Linked DNA regions of Homo sapiens: region 1 is linked to region 2. Evidence: fine-mapped expression QTL. Tissue or cell type: gastroesophageal junction. Region 2 holds a variant in brackets; the other region holds the start of a gene. All regions are shown on one strand. Distances are from middle to middle.

The links. PIP is the estimated chance that this variant, and not a neighbour inherited with it, causes the effect. A credible set is the group of variants that fine-mapping cannot tell apart.
Region 1: it holds the start of PSIP1, and the variant in region 2 is the best candidate, but not a certain one, in a credible set for the expression of PSIP1 in gastroesophageal junction (GTEx, PIP 0.85).

What each region holds. Positions count from the first base shown.
Region 1 is chr9:15,506,489-15,518,032 of GRCh38, forward strand. PSIP1 (PC4 and SRSF1 interacting protein 1) reads right to left here and starts at 4,482. Exons shown (of 16, transcript NM_033222.5): 1 at 4,329-4,482; 2 at 3,629-3,841; 3 at 73-149. The coding sequence starts at 3,700. RefSeq lists enhancers at 3,595-4,548, 4,549-5,501, 6,154-6,772 and silencers at 3,608-3,807, 3,908-3,957, 4,088-4,147, 4,158-4,367, 4,388-4,467.
Region 2 is chr9:15,466,220-15,474,219 of GRCh38, forward strand. It overlaps PSIP1 (PC4 and SRSF1 interacting protein 1), which reads right to left. Exons shown (of 16, transcript NM_033222.5): 9 at 7,790-8,000; 10 at 6,413-6,531; 11 at 3,719-3,774; 12 at 3,047-3,117; 13 at 2,738-2,839; 14 at 2,411-2,624; 15 at 529-640. It also overlaps a transcript of SNAPC3 not described here. Among named protein-coding and RNA genes, the nearest start is that of PSIP1, 41 kb to the right of the region's middle. The variant T/G (reference allele first, on the strand shown) is at 3,516.

The DNA of each region.
Region 1 (11,544 bases), 42 kb after region 2:
TGAATTAATGTCTACTGCCTAATAACCCTGTTAAATTAGCTCTGATTTGCCTTTAAAGCTAACAGGACTTACGTCTCATGAGTTCCAAAAAAGAAAATGGGTAGTTTGTTTGTGGGTGGCTTTACAGCTCCATCAGGAACTTCGTCTACCTAAAAGAAAAGTGAGAAAAATTAAAATATTTTAAATCATACACACCTCAACATTTATCTGAATAAACAAGAGCACAACATCCAAAAGGGTTCTGTTATAAAATGGGCCAGTTCTGCAGGCCCATAATCTCCTATCCCCAAATCTGAAACCCAAGAAGCTCTGAAAACCAAAATTTCTGTCAAAACTCATTTGGTGGCAAAACCTGGACTGACATTGAGGGTATCAGTCATTTCTTTTATCCACCTGTTTCCACTGTTGTTTCTTTGCAGACATATTATTATGTGCTATTCCAGACCGCACCAGCAGCAAAATATATGGCATATGTACTCTCCCTGCCTTCCTAAAATCCCAGAATTCTGAATTGTTAATCATATCATTTCAGGTAAGGAGTCTGAACCTATTTGACAACCCTAAATGTTAGTTCTGCAGGAAATCTATACAAATAACAGACTAATGTAAAAGCAGACATTGACAAAAGTTTAAATCAGTACCTCCCAAAGTCTGAAAAACTTACTATGAAAAGATCCTTCACTGATGTGCCTGAATCACATGAGGCTACCTGTTCCTTTTTCACTGCTCTTTCAACCTTTTAAATTATGTAAGGAAGAAATCATCAGGTGCTGTCACGTCTAATATATCCATAATACTTGTTACTTTCCCTCATCAATAAAGGAAAAGCAGACCTCAGGACTAAAGCAGTACTATCTAGCTAGAATTTAACAACATGTCGGCCAGGCGCGGTGGCTCACACCTGTAATCCCAGCACTCTGGGAGGGCAAGGTGGATGGATCATGAGGTCAGGAGTTCAAGACCAGCCTGACCAATATGGTGAAACCCGGTCTCTACTAAAAATACAAAAATTAGCAGGGCACGGTGTCAGGTGCCTGTAATCTCAGCCACTCCAGAGGCGAATCACTTGAACCTGGGCAACAGAGGTTGCAGTGAGCCGAGATCATGCCACTGCACTCAAGCCTGGGTGACAGAGTGAGATCCTGTCTTTAAAAAAAACAAAAAAAAAGAATTTAACAACATATCTATTTTAAATGTCATAATTTTCATAATTTCAAAAACACTTCAATTTGAAAATCAGCTGACTTTGTTAAGAAGGGGGTTGACCATCAGAGGACCTACTATCCTCTGTAAGCATTATGGTGTTGCAGAAGAAGACCATCAGGATGACTGAACTGATTTGTGAGGGAAGTCTAAAGGCTTTCACACACCAACAGAATCATTACCACCCAATATCTCTAGGGACCTATTTCCCCACTTATATGATGAAGATCACACCTGTTATCTCAACTTTGTGGGAATGTCCCGATAATTGCAAAAATCCTTAATCCCTTAAGAGATCATTTCTGTTAACCCAGTTCATATGCCTCTTTCTGCTAGCAAACAGCTTAAAGAGTTTATGCAAATACCTAGCACCTATAGCCTTTAGCAAATGCCGGGCAAAATTTAAGTTGATTTTTTAAATAATTATTACTGGTAAACGATTATGTACATGAATGTTTAAGACTTAAAAATTAATGAAGTTTGGGACATGTAGACAGAAATGTTAAAGCAAAAATTGCAACAAGAGGTGTCACCTTTACGGCTCAGACTTTAAATATGGACTCTAAACTCTACAGCAAAGATTTCAAATTTTTAAGAATGAAGAAGACAGAAAAAGGAATGTAACTGTTGGACACAGAATACACCAACACTAAATGGAGGTGTTTCTCAGAAAAAATGATGGGGAAAAGGGAAAAGACAAACACTTCCCTTCCAATCCAAATGAACTTGTTAAATGTAGAACTTGTTAAATAAGGAAAACACTCTGGTCTTCCAAAGGCTACCCTATTTTATTTTCAGTAGCACTCTTAGTCACTTAACATATGAGCGTGGGGAGGGTGATTTGGGAGATTTTTTAAACATTTCCTTTGGCTTTTAACTTCACTGTGGCATGCAAATCGGAATATAGATCTATTAGACAACCTCATATTTTCAAACACCTCAAAATAAACAAGGATACCTCGAAGACCATGAAAAAGTATATCAGAGGGGCCTTAAACCTGATCAGTTTCCCTAGGCTCCATTTGAACGTGAATTGTGTTTTATAGGTGCATCATATATACTACGGACTATGGAGGGTATAAACAAATTCCATTTAAGGTTGTTGCCCTCGGTCTCACAATATATTTGGAGGTCAAAGCATACACAGAGTTAAGAATTAAAACAAAAGATTATCACGAAAGGAATAGATTAGAATGTAAAATATACAGACAAGGATTATGACTAAGGATTGTTCAAGTAAGACTGCACCGAAAAGGCAGACTTTATAGGCAAGGAAAAAAGCTTTGGAAGGAAACTTGTGAACAGGAGTTTACGTAGAGCAGCTAGATGGAAGAAAGTCAAGGAACAGTGATCGTTTTACACTTGGATGGCACTCTCAGCTCCTAGACAGGACTCCGTTATCTAATGGGTGTTTTCCACCATTCCCCTGCTGACATAACTAAAACTACAGAATTTAATTATTTTTAAGAAATACATTTTCAAAGGACAGTAAATTAGTCGAAAATAAATGGCTTGGAAAAATAAAACTTCAGAACCCCATGTAAGTATATTTTTAAAGGATCTTGAGTTTACCTAATCTAATTGATTGCAACATATCTTAGGTCCTATCTATCTCTGTTTGAGAGCCTGGGTACCACCATAAACAAAAAGAACCCTTTTTCTAAAAATGGAGCGTAGATCTTTAAACAGTCTCAATTCCTCAATGTCACAAAACATCCTGGGTCCTTAATCATTTCTCTGTACCACTAGATGTGAACTGAGGAATCTGGTCCACACCTCCTTTTTGCCTATTGGAAACAAAAAGGTAAAACAACTTCTTCAAGGTCATAAACATCTCAAATAAAAAAGGAGAAATGAATTTTCTGGCCCTTCCTCGGTACTAAACTACTGTAATACTTTCAAGAATATCCAGTCCTGAATCTGTATTAAACAAGCAAATCCAGAAGGCCTCATCAAGTACAAGGTATTTTTTTTAAAACCCTGTAAATCCAATTTAATCACATACGCACTTCTCTGACATCCAAGTGTTTGTGTGTAATCTGCACAAATTCCATTGATATTTTGTACTTGATCCAAAACTATGGAAATGTCAATGTTTCACTAATTTTTAAACAAAAATTCACTCTTCATTATTTCACCTACAATGGAATATTAACTAGCAACGCATTTAAATATTTCCTAGGAAGAAAATCTGTCCAAGTCTGCCAATAAACCATAGGGAAATACACAGGTATGTAGAAACGTCTGGATTTTCATAATTACACGGGAGATTATTGGGCAAAAAACTAAAATGAAAGGTCAGGTTACAAATGAGACTAAAGCGAGGGAGAGAAAGGACAGAAGAAAAAATAAAGAGACACGGTGGGCAGCAGGCCTCTGGAGAGGAGGGTAGCACTGCTAAGCGCGAGGGCTACAAATCACTTACTCGAGCTGGCCAATGGGGATAACCTTTCATCTTGGCGAAGATGAGGTCTCCAGGTTTGAAATCGCGAGTCATGTTTCGGGGGCGAGACCGGGGGTCCGAAGCCCGGGAGGCGGCGAGGAGATGCGGCGGCGCGGGGATGCGGGCGGCGGACGCGGGCCCAGCTACCGGGCCCGCGGGCGGGGGAGGATGCCTCGGGGCGTCCCGACGCGCCTGCTAGGGAGAGCACCGAGGGCGGTTAAAGCGAAGAACCCCGAAGGGAGGGGCCGCAAGGGGAGGGGGAGGGGAACCGGCGGGTGGGGGTGGGAGAGCGAGGGGACGGCCGCCTCCCGCTCCTCCCCCGCCAGTGCGCTGCCTCCGCGCTGGAGCAGGTCCTCCACCCCGCCACCGAAGAGACGCCACCACCTGAAGCAGGGATGCTGCCCGGCCAGAAATCGCCCGTCTGCCCGCCCCATCTTTCTCCGGGCTTTTTCCACCGAGCTTAAGCCCCAAAAGGGAGGGGGTGCATGGGAGAGAAAAAGGCAGGGATTCCGAGAAGCGAGCGGCCCCCTTCCGCCCACGCAAGGCCTCCCCCGCAACCTGCTGCCCAGCGGCTGCAGCCTCGGCCCCCTCGGCTCCCGGGCGGGCCGCGTCCACTTCCCCGCTACAGCCAGGAGCGACGCCACCGAGGGGGGGGCGGGGCGAGTCCCCGTCGCCCGCTCACCTGCCGGGGCCGCGGGCGCCGACGCTGCGGTTGCTGGCCGGTCGCCTCTACCCGCGTCCACGCAAGCCACCTGCGCCACCAGCTGCCGCAGAGGCGTCTCAACGGCTCGGAATCGCAACCGCGCCGCCGCTGCCGCCGCCGTAGCTGCGCTGCTCCCGCGCGGCTCCCGCTCGGCGCCCGCTAGCACTGGGGCGCGACCAACTGTTTACCGAGAGAGGGGGGATGTTGCAGCACCCGGCGAAGCTGTGTGGCTCCGAAGCGGATTTTCTGGAAACCCTACGTCCCCAAGTTCGCTTTCATGTAACAGGTGCATGCAGATGGAGAGGAAGACGCAAGCGAAGAAGAAAGGACTGGGCGAAAATAGCTCGGCCTGCCGCAAGTTCCCCCTGCGGTTTGCGGAGTGGTCGGGCCCGGCCCGCCCCTGCTGGCTTCTCTGCGTGTGTGTATTTGTATGTGTACTGTATGTAAAAGGCGGGGAGGGAGGAAATGATTGTTGTGGACGCGGTTTTGGGGGCGGGTATCCGGGCCTCTCTCCCTTGGCTGCGTGTTAGGGAGAAAGTGGCAGTAAAGATTCATGTTCTTGTATCGTTTCCAGGGTGGGGAGGTTTGAATGCTGCTTTTGCGCGGTTTGCATCATCCAAAAAAGAGGAGCTGTACGAAAACCCTAAGATGAAATTGGAGCATGCGGCGGTTGCAGGGTGTGCTGCATCTAGGCCTCTTGCACCTCGCTGAATGGGCCTCGTAGTCTCCTTTTCCTTGAAATTGTAGTATGAGAGAGCCCTATTTCATTTCTTTTGCATTTGCATCACCAAGAACTATTAAGAAAAATGCAACCCTACTGAATGCAAAATGCGAAGGGTAGAAAACAATGACAGGAAAACAGAAACCTTTTAGATAGGATGTGAGTTTGGGCCCTAACTAAATTTTAGCTGCATCTAAATTTTATTTCCCTAGTAGAATAGGAGCTGGTAGGTGGTACAATGTGTAAGTGTTACTAAACCTCAAATATTTTCTCTCTTAAAATGCTCTTCAAGGGATTTTAAAGGTTAATTTTTTGATCCTTTAGAGAGGCTGAAAATATTTTTAAAAAGAATGTTAAGACATATAAAAATAAGAATAATAAGACATATATTAGCACCTAGATAATACTGTTTTAAATACGGGACTCAACTGGAAATGAATTAGGAAATTTTTTTTGAATTGGTAAAAATTGAGAATTTTTTGAAAGCGATACAGCATGTCTTTAAAAAGGAATGAAAGAAGACAGTCCCAAAGTAAAATGTCCTGTAAGGAGTTTCGAGAAACTAAGTATACCTGGGCAATATGCAGAGAGTTCCAAGTGGAGCAAAAAGAGAAATTGGCAGAGGAGAAGGAAGGGTTGGTGAAATGTCTTGAAGCTTCTCATTCTGAATATGAATTTAATGTGTGTAGTAGGAAGCTACTATAGGTTGCTCAGCAAGAAGGGGGTAAAAATGATTATTTAACCAGTTCTTGATGTTTCAAGGTAGATGTTAGTAGAAAGAGGCTGGGGGTAACTGGAGTACTCATGAAATGACGCATTTCTCAGTGAGAATGGTGACTAAGAAAAGGGAAGGAAGAGCACAACTAAGTAATTACACAAAGGAATGATTGTCAGGTGTTGGCTATAAATTATGCATAGGAAAAGGTGGAAAAAGATGTATTGAAGAAAAGCTCAAGATACAGAGTAAGAGAGACCAAAGCAGCATCCAGCAATCATTTTTTTGTGTGTATGCACTTTATTTGTTCTAAACCCTGTAAGGCCTTGCTACTTCAAGTGTGGTCCAAGGCCCAGCAGCAAGGGCTTTACCTGGGAGCTCAGGTAAAGCTCAGACCTTCCCCAGGCCTTCTAAATCATAATCTGCGTTTTAACAGGATCCCTAGGTGATTCTTACGCATATTCAAGTTTGAGAAACTGCTTTAGAGGATACCTCAGACTGTAAAAACTTCAAACTAAGAAAAACAGATATATAACAAGTTATAATTAACGTTAAAGATAACTTTTTATTAGTACTAATGGTAGGATTAACAGGTAAAGAGGGGGTAGTTAGTGTTAGAGGGGACCTCAGAAAAGAAATAAAAAAGGGAAAATGGAAAAGCATTGATGTTTTACTATTAGTATTTTCTGTTGTTTTTGTTGTTTTAAAAAAAGGAAGTACCATACTTAGCTCCTGCTGCCTTTAAGTTTTGTCCGCTTCAACCTGTGGTAGTTTGTGAACAACAGGAGATACCCTTTAAACAATAAAGGCAAAACAGGTGGTGGTTTAAGCTTCCAGAGAACAAAAGCCCAGGATCCCTGGGAGCAACAGTTCTGAATCTGCGAGGAAAGGGGGGGGGAGGGGAGGGGAGGGGAGGGCAGGGAACGGGGAAGGAAAGCTGGGCACATCCTAGCCACTTGGGAGAGCTTTTCTGTGCTCTTTTCCAGCTATGCTTGGTGCAGCCCTCTCCCATAGTCAGCCTTCTTAGTGGGGATACTTGAAAAAGTATACCAAAATGGAGATCAGAGGAGCAATGGGAAAGTTATAAGGAGAAAGAGTGTAATTTCCAAAACAACTGAAGCAAGGGGAGGGGGCAGGAAAATCCAAATGAGTTGAGGCAGGAACTTGGCCTACATTATCTCATTTAACCCAAGTGCCACTATCCCCATTTCACAGATGAGAAAATAAGCTCACAGAAGGTAAGCAGCTAGCTTGCCCAAGATCACACATCTAGTCCAGGGGCTGAGGCAACATTCTAGCCCCTCTGGCTACTTGCCCATGCCATTTTTGTGATCCCACATCGCCTCTAGGTGGGGCAGGGAGGCAGCAAGGCTGAAGGAGGAGTGGCTTATAATTAGAAAAGATGCTGGAAGGAAAAGCAGCCCAGTACTTACTCTTCCACCTTCCACCTTTGGGCTTGAAAGTATTCCCAGCTTCAAATTTCCTAACAACCTCCCTCCACACCATGCCATTCCCCAGCTTGTCCCCAGCACGAGACCATTCTGTTTAACTCCTTCTGGTCCTAAAAAACTCAACCCAAAAATCACCTCTGGAAAAGATGTGACCTAATCTTAGAGTAACATAGTTTCTTATTTACACTCTTTCCTACTAATCTGTAAACTGCTTAGAAGTAGGCACTATCTTATTCATCAGTGCAGGTACTCAATAAAAAAGCGCCGGACGCGGTGGCTCATGCCCGTAATCCCAGCACTCTGGGAGGCCAGGGCAGGTGGATCACGAGGTCAGGAGTTCAAGACCAGCCTGGCCAACATGGTGAAACCCCGTCTATACTAAAAATACAAAAATTAGCCGGGTGTGGTGGTGTGCGCCTGTTAATCCCAGCTTCTCAGGAGGCTGAGGCAGGAGAATCCCTTGAACCTGGGAGGAGGAGGTTGCAGTGTTCCAAGATCACCCCACTGCACTCCAGCCAGGGTGACAGAGCGAGACTCTCTCTCAAAAAAAAAATTCCTTTTCAAAAATATTTATTGAGTGAATGAGAGGGAGGGGCAAGTGAAAAACCCCAACAGACTCATTAATCCTTTAGGATGAAAATACAGGTAAGTATGACACATGGAAGTGTTTTTGTTTTGACTTTATGAATTTTTCTTGTACAGTACTTAAAGGTTAACCCTTTAAGAGCAGTGACATTTTTCATTCACTACAAATACATTCATTTTAACTATTTTAATGAAAATCTTTCTAAATGAGATCTTTATTCTAAAAAATTAGCAACAATCTCTTCCTTCGTATCTCTTGCATAATTTCCTACCTTAATACACAGTGTTAGTGATGCACCTTCAATTTATTGGTATGAACAGGTATTGAACTGTTTTCTCGTGTTGTATGTTAATCCTTATGATGGGGAAATAGTGGGAAGTTAGCAAGAATATGGGGGAAAATAAAGAGCATTAATCAAAGAGCTAGTTTAGTTGGGGATGTCATAAATCCAATCTAGGTCTTGCTTCCCATGAAAATCAATAAGCATTCAAAGCTTTGACTCCCAGGTGGGCAAAAACCAAGAAGTACTAGCTTATGAGCTGGTAGCTAGGTTTACTGCTGAGCTGGTTTACCAATGTTTAGAGGAGAGTTGTTTTCAGCACATGAGATAAGAGAAGTCTTAAGGAATCTGAGTGCTCCTTAGAAAGACTAGAAAGAAGCAAGGCAAAGATAGAGTTTGACAGTTGACCTGTGAGTACTATTAGTGCCTTTTGTGAAGACTGCCTAGACTGTGGGCCGTTCCAGTGGGAATTTTTTTTTTTTTTTTTTTTGAGACGGAGTCTCGCTCTGTCACACAGGCTAGAGTGCAGTGGCGCAACCTCGGCCCACTGCAACCTCCACCTCCTGAATTCAGGCAATTATCCTGCCTCAGCCTCCCGAGTAGCTGGGATTACAGGTGCCCACCACCATACCTAGCTATTTTTTTTTTTTTTTTTGTATTTTTAGTAGAGACAGGGTTTCACTATGTTGGCCAGGCTGGTTTTGAACTCCTGACCTCAAGTGGACCATCCACCTCGGCCTTCCAAAGTGCTAGGATTACAGGAGTGAGTCATGGCACCCGGCCTTTTTTTTTTTTCTTTTTTTTTTTGAGATGGAGTCTCACTCTGTTGCCCAGGCTGGAGTGCAGTGGTGCAATCTTGGCTCACTGCAACCTCCACCTCCTGGGTTCAAGTGATTCTCCTGCCTCAGCTTCCCAAGTAGCTGAGATTACAGGCATGTGCCACCATGCCCGGCTACTTTTTTTGTAGTTTTAGGAGAGATAGGGTTTTGCCACGTTGGCCAGACTGGTCTCGAACCCCTGATCTCAGGTGATCTGCCCTCCCCGGCCTCCCAGAGTGCTAGGATTACAGGCGTGAGTCACTGTGCCCAACGTCCAGTGGGATTTTTAAAAAAAATCACTAGATGACCTGATTACTTCTCATCTCAGATACTTGGTTTGCTTCTTTCTTACATCTCCATCTCCAGTCTTGGTTAAGGGTTCTCTTACCCACATGTGTATATGCCATACTCCTCTTTGACTCTGCTGCCTGATTTTGCCTTTTTCCCTGCTTCATCTTATTCCTTTGTCTACATTCTTTCTCATTTTCCTCCGTGTTCTTACTCCATGATTTTGGTGTGTGAAGTGTGTAGCTTTGAAAGTAGAATGATGTCTTGCTCTGGTCAATAGACCTACCAACCTACTGATGTCTTTTATTGTCTTTGTACCATTGATTCTTCTAGGTCAGCTTTCTCAGAGTGTTTTATGAGAACAGTAGTATAGCTTGAGAAGTTAAAAGGCCTAAATTAGGGAAAAGGAAATTCTATAGACAAGTGAATTTGAGAAACGCAGAGTCAAAGTTGCATGGCTTTCTTTAAAGTAAGACATCTCAGAGCTGTTAATATATTAAATTTGCTTTATGAATTTCTAAAATGGGTTTTTAGCCATCAGTCCAAAGTTATTTGATAATGGAACTCCCCTTTCTTTTTTCCTGGAAAACCGTCACCTAGGACTAGTGATGGTAAATATTGTACCATGCAACATTTTGGCGATGTGCTTTCTTATGAGCTTATTGATAAGCAGGGGATGTGAGGTTGAGCTCTGATAGCCAGACAGACACCAGAGGCTTTACTTTAAATGCAAATTTAATGTATCTTAATATTTAGAAAAAGTAACTCAGGTGCTCGATGTTCAATTACAGAGAAAAAACTAATAGTTACCACTTTGATATGACATAAGAAAAGAGAGCACAGACTTTGGAGTCAAGCATGAGTTCTGATCATGGCTCTGTCACTTTCCATACGTGCTATTAGGCAACTCTTAACTTCATGTACTTATTTTCTTATCAGTGAAATGTGAATAAGGACACTTGCCTTGGAGGGCTATTGTGAGGATTAAATTAGATCATAAATATATAATGTGCATGATATTAGTATCTTAGCCATGTTTACAACCTAGGGGGAGAAATAAGTAATTGTCTTCCATGTATGTATAGGATTATGCTATGACTGGGTCTAAAATCCAACTAGATGTAGAGGGAAAAGTTCTGTATGAAAACTTCACTTCTAAGGACTGCTGGATGACAAATTACTGGTTTGACTTTGCTGTTTGGGGATTTTTTTCTTCTTCTTGGATTGGTCTTTTATAATTATTATTATTATTATTATTATTATTATTATTATTATTATTTGAGACAGGGTCTTGCTCTGTTGCCCAGGCCGCAGTGCAACGGCCTGATCTCGGCTCACTGCATCCTCAAACTCCTAGGCTCAAGTGATCCTTCCCTCTCAACCTGTGGAGTAGATGGGACTACAGTCGCATACCACTATCCCCAGCTATTTTTTTTTTTTTAATTTTTTGTAGAGACAAGGTCTCCCTATGTTGCCCAGGCTGATCTCAAACTCCTGGTCTCAAGCAATCCTCCTGCCTCGGCCTCCCAAAACTGTAGGATTATGGGCACGAGCCACAGTGCCTGGCCTGGTTTGGGTTTTTTTGTTGTTGTTTTTTTTTAAGATTTTATTTTTTGAGAGCAGTTTTAGATTCACAGCAAAATTGAGAAGATACAGATGTATCCCATATGCCCTCTACCCCCACACATGCATAGCGTATATCATTATCAACATCCCCCACTAAAGTGTTACATTTTTTACGATTGATGAAACTACATTAACATATTACCCAATGTCCATAGTTTACATTAGGGTTCACTATTGCTTCGTGCATTCTATGGGTTTGGACAAATTTATAATGACATGTATCCGCCACTGTAACATCATACAGAGTAGTTTCACTGCCCTCAAAATCCTTTCTGCCCTGCGTATTCATCCGTCCATTCCCCAAGTCATGGCAACCACTTATCTTTTTACTGTCTTCATACTTTCCCCTTTTCCAAATCATACAATATGTAACCTTTTCAGAGGCTTCTTTCACTTCGTAATCTGCATTTAAGTTTCCTCCATGGCTTGATAGGTAATTTCTTTTTAGTTCTGAAACATATTCCATTGTCTGGACATATTTTGTTGGTTCGAATATTCACCTACTGAAGGAAACTTGGTTGCTTCCAAGTTTTGGCAATTATGAATAAAACTGCTATAAACGACTATGTGCATGTTTTGTGTGAACATAAGTTTTCAACTTATTTGTGTAAATACCAAGTTCTGTAATTGCTGATTCATATGGTAAGAATATGTTTCACTTTAAGAAATTGCCAAACTGTTTCCCAAAGTGGTTGTACCATTTTATATTC
Region 2 (8,000 bases):
ATACAAAAAATTAGATGGGCGTGGTGGCAGGTGCCTGTAATCCCAGCTACTTGGGAGGCTGAGGCAGGAGAATCGCTTGAACCCAGGAAGTGGAGGTTGCAGTGAGCACGATCGTGCCATTGCACTCCAGCCTGAGCAACAAGAGTGAAACTCTGTCTCAAAGAAAAAACAACAACAACAAAACTGTGATTCTCCATCTAACTTTTTACAATTATCCTTTCACAATTCAAGAAAGTGTGAATGCAAGTCATTACTAACAGTATCTCAGTAAAAGTAGTCCAGGAGCAAATATTTTCTTTTTAACTGGGTTCCCAGCTAGTTCCATTCCCTTGAATTCAGTGGCAAAGTCACTGTCAATAAAAGGTTTTTACTCTTCTTCCTTTTTGAATTGTAACTTGCTTACTGAATTCAGGAATTGGGTGATCAAAAGATAACTGCTTATTATAGTAAGATAACCTTGGAACAGAACTGTGATTAAAAACCTGAATAATAAAAAACACACAAGACCCATTAAAACCTATTCCTCACTTTTTCTTCGTGCTGGCTTCATGGTTGTCTTTGCTGTCTTCATTGCTCTCCCCGTTATGTTGTGGCTGATTACCATCTTGAGCATCAGATCCTCCATTTAGAGTCTTTGACCCTTGCGAAGGAATCCAATGGAAAAACTTTGTTAAAGCTTACAAAACAATAATTGAAGGTGTCCACTAAAGATCCAGAATCAAAATACAACATGGCCATCGTGTTTCTACTACTTAATGTCTTTTATTTGAAATTACATTGTAATACAGCCCTCTCTTGAATGTTAGAATTGGGTTTTGATGGCTTTGTCAAAAAGGGGAGCAGATGACCACCAGAGGCTTTGGGTAGCTAAGGCACCATAAAAAGCAGGTTAACTATCTATGAGTACAGGAAGTGGATTATTAATCTGATTATTCTGGTTGTTACTATTACCAGGAATACTACAGGGTGTTGTAATTCTTAGCATATTCATTTATTCTACCACGGAAAAGCAATGTGAATCAAATTTTAAAATTTACTATTTTAGAACAAAGTGCTAAAGGAGTATTTCCTAATTGATATTTTTGTGCCTAATAAAGGGGGTTTTCCTGTAAGTCGTATTAATAATTCTCTAAGGGGACCCATGTCATTCCCCAATAAAGCAACAAAAACAAAAAACCAACCGACTGCTTTTGAAATGCCAGCTTTTACCTTAAGCAGCTGCCACTAAGATGTTTAATAACAAGACTGGAGGAGCTGATAATGGTACTATGATTCTGTTTTAAGAGTCTTTCATACATTCTGAAATGTTTATGAGTGAAATGGTATGTCAGGGATTTTTCGTAAAACAACTTTCAAGAGGGGCATAGAGAAAGCTTATGGGCTACAAAAGCACAATGATCATAAACTGAACTGCCAAAGCTGGATGACAAGGACATGAGAAGTTATTTCTATTTGTATAAGTTATAAATTTTTCCTAATACAAATGAAAAGAAAATAACTACTGTTAGTAATAAGTACTAGCAGGATTTAACTACTGCTAAAGTTAGTGAAAAAAGTAGAAGCTAAGGTTCAGTGCCTTACATATATGCTACACATCTAAGTGCTTTGTAAGACTTTATCACCAGGCGCGGTGGCTCATGCCTGTAATCCCAGCACTTTGGGAAGCCACGGCAGGTGGATTACCATAGGTCGGGAGTTCAAGACCAGCCTGACCAACATGGAGAAACCCCGTGCCTACTAAAAATACAAAATTAGCTAGGTGTGGTGGCGTATGCCTGTAATCCCAGCTACTCTGGAGGTTGAGGCAGGAGAATCGCTTGAACCCAGAAGGTGGAGGGTTGTGGTGAGCCGAGATCACGCCACTGCACTCCAGCCTGGACAACAAGAGCGAAACTCCATCTTTTAAAAAAAAAAAAAAAAAAGGACATGGCATTAATACTGTGAAGTCTGTTCAGGGTAACTCAGCAGCATCATCAGAATACCTGTATCAAGTAATGGCAGGTGTAGTCTCCACCTATGAGGCTGTGTTTTAATTTAAAAGGCTACTGTACGCTATTTTACTTTTTAGGTGAGAAGAAAACAGAAGCAGCTGAGCAACCAGGAAGTGGGTACTCTAGGGATTAGGAGGCATTGTGATGGATGGGTTTTTAAAAATTGTTTATCCAGAGTCATCTGCCTCATGAGCAATGGTTTCTGCCTTAGAAGTCGAATATAAACTGACATGATTTTTTGTTCTCAATGCACACTGCTCTAGTCCTTCAATAGGCCCATCAGATTTTCACCATTTTGCCTTTGTATACTTTTTCTGTGGCGTATACACAGTGAAACTATGTATGAAAGCCATTTTTAAAAGCAGTCCTGGCAAATGGTTTAAAAACTGGTGTGAAATTGTTGGCTTTTTACCACATACCTGTTTGTTCCTTCTCTAGCTTTTTGTTTGGCCCTTTCTTCCCTTGATCTTTGGTTTTATTCGCTTCCTCATGCTGTCTTTGTTCAGCAAGAGATTTATTCAGCACTTGGGTGATCACGGAATCTCCTTCACCAACCAAGAACATGTTCTTAAACTTGTTATACAACATTGTAGACTTTTCCATGATTACCTGACTAACTTTGAATCGCCGTATCTGAGAAAACAATATACATTCATCATAATTGTTTTCCTAATTGATTTTTTAAACAATTTTTAAATGAAGTAATGACAAAATTCAAAGAATCCACATGACTTGAAATCACTTACTTTTTTCAGTGTAGTAATCATCTCTGTGTGTTTCTGAGCTTGTTGCATTGTGACCTGAAGTGAAGCAAGTTCATCCAAGGCCTCAATGCATCTGTTCACATCCTTCATGACAAAACAGTAATTTCATAGCTGTTAATTATCTTAACACTTAAACAATCTGTTTCTAAAGATCGTTTCCAAAAAAAAAGAGGTAGTGCAAAATGACCAGTAATTATCCCTTAAATTTACATACTCATAAGATCATGTGAGAAAATAAAAGATGAAGCTATAAATGCAGTACTGAAGTATTAAATGAAGTTAAACACTTACAAGATTATCAATTTTGAGTGAATTTTTAATCTCAGCATGTATCCTTTGAAGTCGAGAATCCATTGATGTTTCTACAAATTAAAATATGTGAAAAACAGTGAACAGTTTTTCCAAAACCAGTATTTCTATATACAGGCTAAGTATAATGAATTAGTGGACTTAAAAAAAAAATGTTCTTAGTAATCTTTACTAAGAAGCTCAAAGATATGCACAATAGCTTAACTAAGAATAAGTACTTATTGCCATTTTTAGTGGTTGAGAAAAGCAACATGCAGTGTAAAAGCACAAAACCACCACTTGGCTGCGTTTTTCCTAAAATAAATAGTCTGCATATGATAACTCCTCTGCTCTCCAGTCCCCAAACACCTGCTTTTCCTTATGTTTAACCAAGGGATTTGTCTGAAATGGGAAAGCATCCAGCTTTCAGCAAGTGTACTAAAATTTGACACCATCAAATAATTAATGAGCA[T/G]TAAACATAAACAACTCAAGCAAGTTCACTTGATTATGCTTAAAATACAATGCAATTTATATAAAGCCCATTAGGGATTTGAAAAATTCTATTTGTAGGATATGAGTATAAAATTATTCCAAAACCAATACATGAAAAGTTATGTCTATATAACTTCTTTTCCATGTATAATTTTATGTATCTTAGAAAGTGAAATAACTAACCTCGCTTCTTCTCCACTTTCTTAACTTCTGGCTTCTTTCCTTCATCTTTATTCTGCCTATCAAATGTTAACAAAAATATTTCAACACATTGGAATTTTGTGACTAAATGCCCACAATCCCTATGTAAAAGCTAAAAATGTTTTCCTTAAAATAAGTCAATAGCCTAGACTGCAAAGGAACTGACTGTAGCTCTTAGAATGGTGCAGTTCCGTAGCATAAATATAAGCAAAACTCTAATTAACATGCTAGATTAAATCATATCTGGCTTTTCAGTGACATCACAAATAGTGTGTTGCTAGAAGAGCAATTTCAGGGTCACTGGACAAACAGGCCACAATGGGAAGATGACACCTATAAATGTTTAATGGCTTCTACATCCATTCTTTTTTAAAGCTGCATCTTAAAATAGACCAATTTAATCATTGTGCATGTAACAAGCAGATTAATGAGTTCTGAAGTTAGCTTTAAAGTTAAATAGACTTAAGATAACACTGTTTTTAAAATTTTGGCCAATTCATCAAACTTGAATGACGTCCAGTAACATTCACTAACATTTCACAAAAGGTACCATTTTATTGTCAATCACAAAAATAACCACTTAAAATTGAAATCTTAATTTCTAGTACCTTGGCTTAGAGTTCAGGCCATATTATGAACCAATTCAAATAGACAAGAACAAAAAATATCTAAAAATCAGGTTTTTTTTTTAAAAAAAACTTTATTTTAAAATTTTGGTTACAGTTTCATTCTTAACAAGTCTACTACTGTTTAATCTCTCAGGATTAAAAAAACATTTATTAAGATTCTAAAGAATTAAACAACAAAGGAATGTCAAGAGAAGGGCCCCATTCTCAGGGATATAACTGCTATTCCAGTTTAATAACTAGCTTCAAAACAAAATGAATTTTTATATTTTCTAGATGAATAATGTACAACCACCATCTTCGTCTGAGCTTGTTATTACTTTCAAACACAAAGCTTCATTTTAAGCTTGGTTAAAAAAAAAAAAAAAAAAAAAAAACAGGAATGATGGCCGACCTTAGTATGTAGTGTGTACCTTACAGGAAATTTGTTAATCATAACACAGTAATGCCATTAATAATGAAGTCCTCAATTTAGAATCTGGAACATTCTTCCATCAATGGGGGGAAGGGGGAAATTCAGTCCAATGAGTCTGTATCAAGATCTTCATCTCTTGTTTGCTCCACTTGTATTCTCTTTTCAGTAACTGGATTAATGCTTTGAGCCCAAAATGAGATATATTTTTTATTACTGTAGATTACATGTTGTTTGGCTGGGAATACAATACAATAAACTTTATTTTGCATAATGCATTTCACACAAGCTGCATCTGAAATGCTTTACAGAGCAAAACTGTCCAAGTACAAAGTTTTGTAATAACAGGAGAAGGAAAGAAAACACAAATATTAGAATTTGAGAAAGTTACATTGGAGGACATTCAAAAGAAACTGAAATACATAAAGATAACTTTAAGATACTAAAGAAGGGTTGGGCTACATATACTAGTAACAACTAATTTTATATCTTAATTTTGAGATCACAATAAAGTCAAAAGCAACAAACAGTCCAACAGCTTTTCAGTGAAAAGATAGAATAGAAAATGATAGGTGACAAAGAATAACTTAAATATTTACAGAAGTGCTTAAAGTCTAACATTAGAGGGAATAATATTTTTGAGCTTTAGATAAGTTATTTAAATTACTCCCTCAAGGAGCTAAAACTACTTGTATATCCTCCAAACTAAGAAAGCAGAGTAAAACGCTGTACTTGTCAAGAAAGACTTTGGCTTACGGATATATTATATAAAGAAAAAAAGTACAAAATTGTTCAAGAATTGTTTTACTGCTCATCATTAACTTTGTCTTATTGACCTAGAGCATGTTTTAAAAATCACCTCACTAAAACAACAACAAAAAAACAAAATTTAGTCAGAATGTAAGACGCTTCACGAGAAAAGAAAAGCATGTCAGAGAAAGAACTCAGAAGTGACAGTCTAAAGGTAACTAGGAAAGCAAATGTAATAAAGACACGAAGTCTGTTCATTATTATCATTGCTATTACTTTTCCTTCTAGTAATAAAATTATATAGTAAGGGGAAAGAAATTCCCCATGGCAAGTCCTGTCTCTATAAGTATCAAAATTTAAGAGAAAACAGCTTTGAATTTGATTTATATTGCACATACATAATAATGTACACCCTGTCAGCCTTTAGATTTACTTTTACTGGCTTCCTGGGTTTCCAAATGTGCTTTTGTTACTTTTGCTGGTCTTTAGGGTGAGGCCTGCTTGGTGGTGTGATGAATAAGGGCATTTCCTGCATTCTTTGTCTACCAGTATATTATCGCCCCTCTATCTATATGTATTATATTATACAAACAAATGGTTGAGGATGAGTACACTTCTTGCAAAGCCAGTATCAATTAAATCCTATCTGCACTTCGTTTAAATTCAAAAATAATTCACAGAGTGACTGCCTCAGTCAATTTCATCCTCTCAGAAGAGAATGAAGCCTGAAATAAGATCATCATCATATATTGAAGATTTTTCTAACACATGGGAAAAGTCACTTCTTCAAAAGGCTTCATAAAGTCTGGAAAATGAAAGTCTATTATTTAAAAATTCCATGCTAGCCTTTAAAAAGAACCCAAAATTTAGAAAAAAAAAAATACTTACTGCTCAGTTTCCATTTGTTCCTCTTGCTTGCGTTTTCGATCTGCTGCTTCTTTCTCATGTTGGCCTTTCAGCATATTCCTTCTGTGAGCAGTCTGAAAGTTCCTCCCACCTTTTCTCTTCTGTTTTGAGAATTAGGATGGTTTTATTTAACTATAAAGTCAGTGACTAGTGCTTATGGAATTATAATCTTGGGGGAAAAGCAGCAGCTAGTTTTTAAAAAAGGGATGAATACTCAAATTAGCAACCTAAAAATAGTCTTTGAATTACACCTATCTCTGCAAGTTTAACTTTGATTAATGACCGTGAAATAATCATCTTGTTTTATGCCCTGCTATAGGAGTGATGTCCTTTGGATAAAATATAGTATGTCAGTCTGTTTGCCTCTCTACAGAGTGATTTGACTTGAGTACTGACAAGCACACTACATGACCTATCCAATTTAAAATGTTTGGTTTCTAAAAGATTAAGAAATGAGCCAAAAATCAGATGAAAGTAAACAAAAGATTTGCATGACCTGAATCTGTAAATCTCTAAGGCTATACACAAAATTTTATTTTTCTACACAAAAGGATACACAGCTTTAATGAGGTTCCCAACAACTATGGCGTCCAAATAAATTTACATACCACTGATAAAATGTACAATAGGCCTGAAGGGTGTTAAGAACTTCTTGGGGGTAAATAACAAAAATCTCTATATAAATCCACCTCTTTTAACATTTGTCTTCACTGGCCACAGCCTATTTCATCTACCTTTTCTAGACAGATGGGGTTATTGGAAAGGTACTGTTTACTTAATTTCCAGATCATAATTGTAAAATAGATGAATTTAGAGAACAGATAATAAAGGGACGTTTTCAATATGCTTTGTAACACAGCTAATTCAAGTCTATTCAAAAAGGTAAACAAATTCATTTTAACTGCCACTGATATTTATAGACTTCCTCCAAAATATTAAAAGCTCTTAAACTGGGCAGATTAAGAAATACATAAATGGCCAGGTGTGGTGCCTGTAATCCCGGCACTTTGGGAGGCCAAGGTGGGAGGTTCACCTGAGATCAGGAGTTCAAGACCAGCCTGACCAAGATTGCAAAACCTTGTCTCCACTAAAAATACAAAAATTAGCCGGTAGTGGTGGCACATGCCTGTACTTCCAGCTACTCAGGAGGCTAAGGCTGGAGAATTACTTGAATCCAGGAGGCAGAGGTTGCAGTGAACCAAGATTGTGCCACTGCACTCCAGCCTAAGCAACACAGCGAGACTCCATCTCAAACAAAAAAAAAACAAAAAAAAAAACAAAAAAAAAACAAAGAAAAAACAAAAAATATATATATAAACTAAGAATAGAACAGCCATTTTATATATGTAAACTTTATACCTTTTCACCTTCTTGATCATCTCCTTCTTCTTCAGAATCGGAGGTTGAAGTAACCCCTGTTTTAGCTAAATTTTTCCTTTTTGATTCAACTTCTTTCTTCCCCTCTTTTTTATCCGGCTCTTTTCTTGGCTTATCTTCTTCCTTCTGGCCCTCTTCATCCTTCTTAGGCTGCTTTTTAGGTTGTTTTTCCTCTTGCCCCTTTTTCTTACTT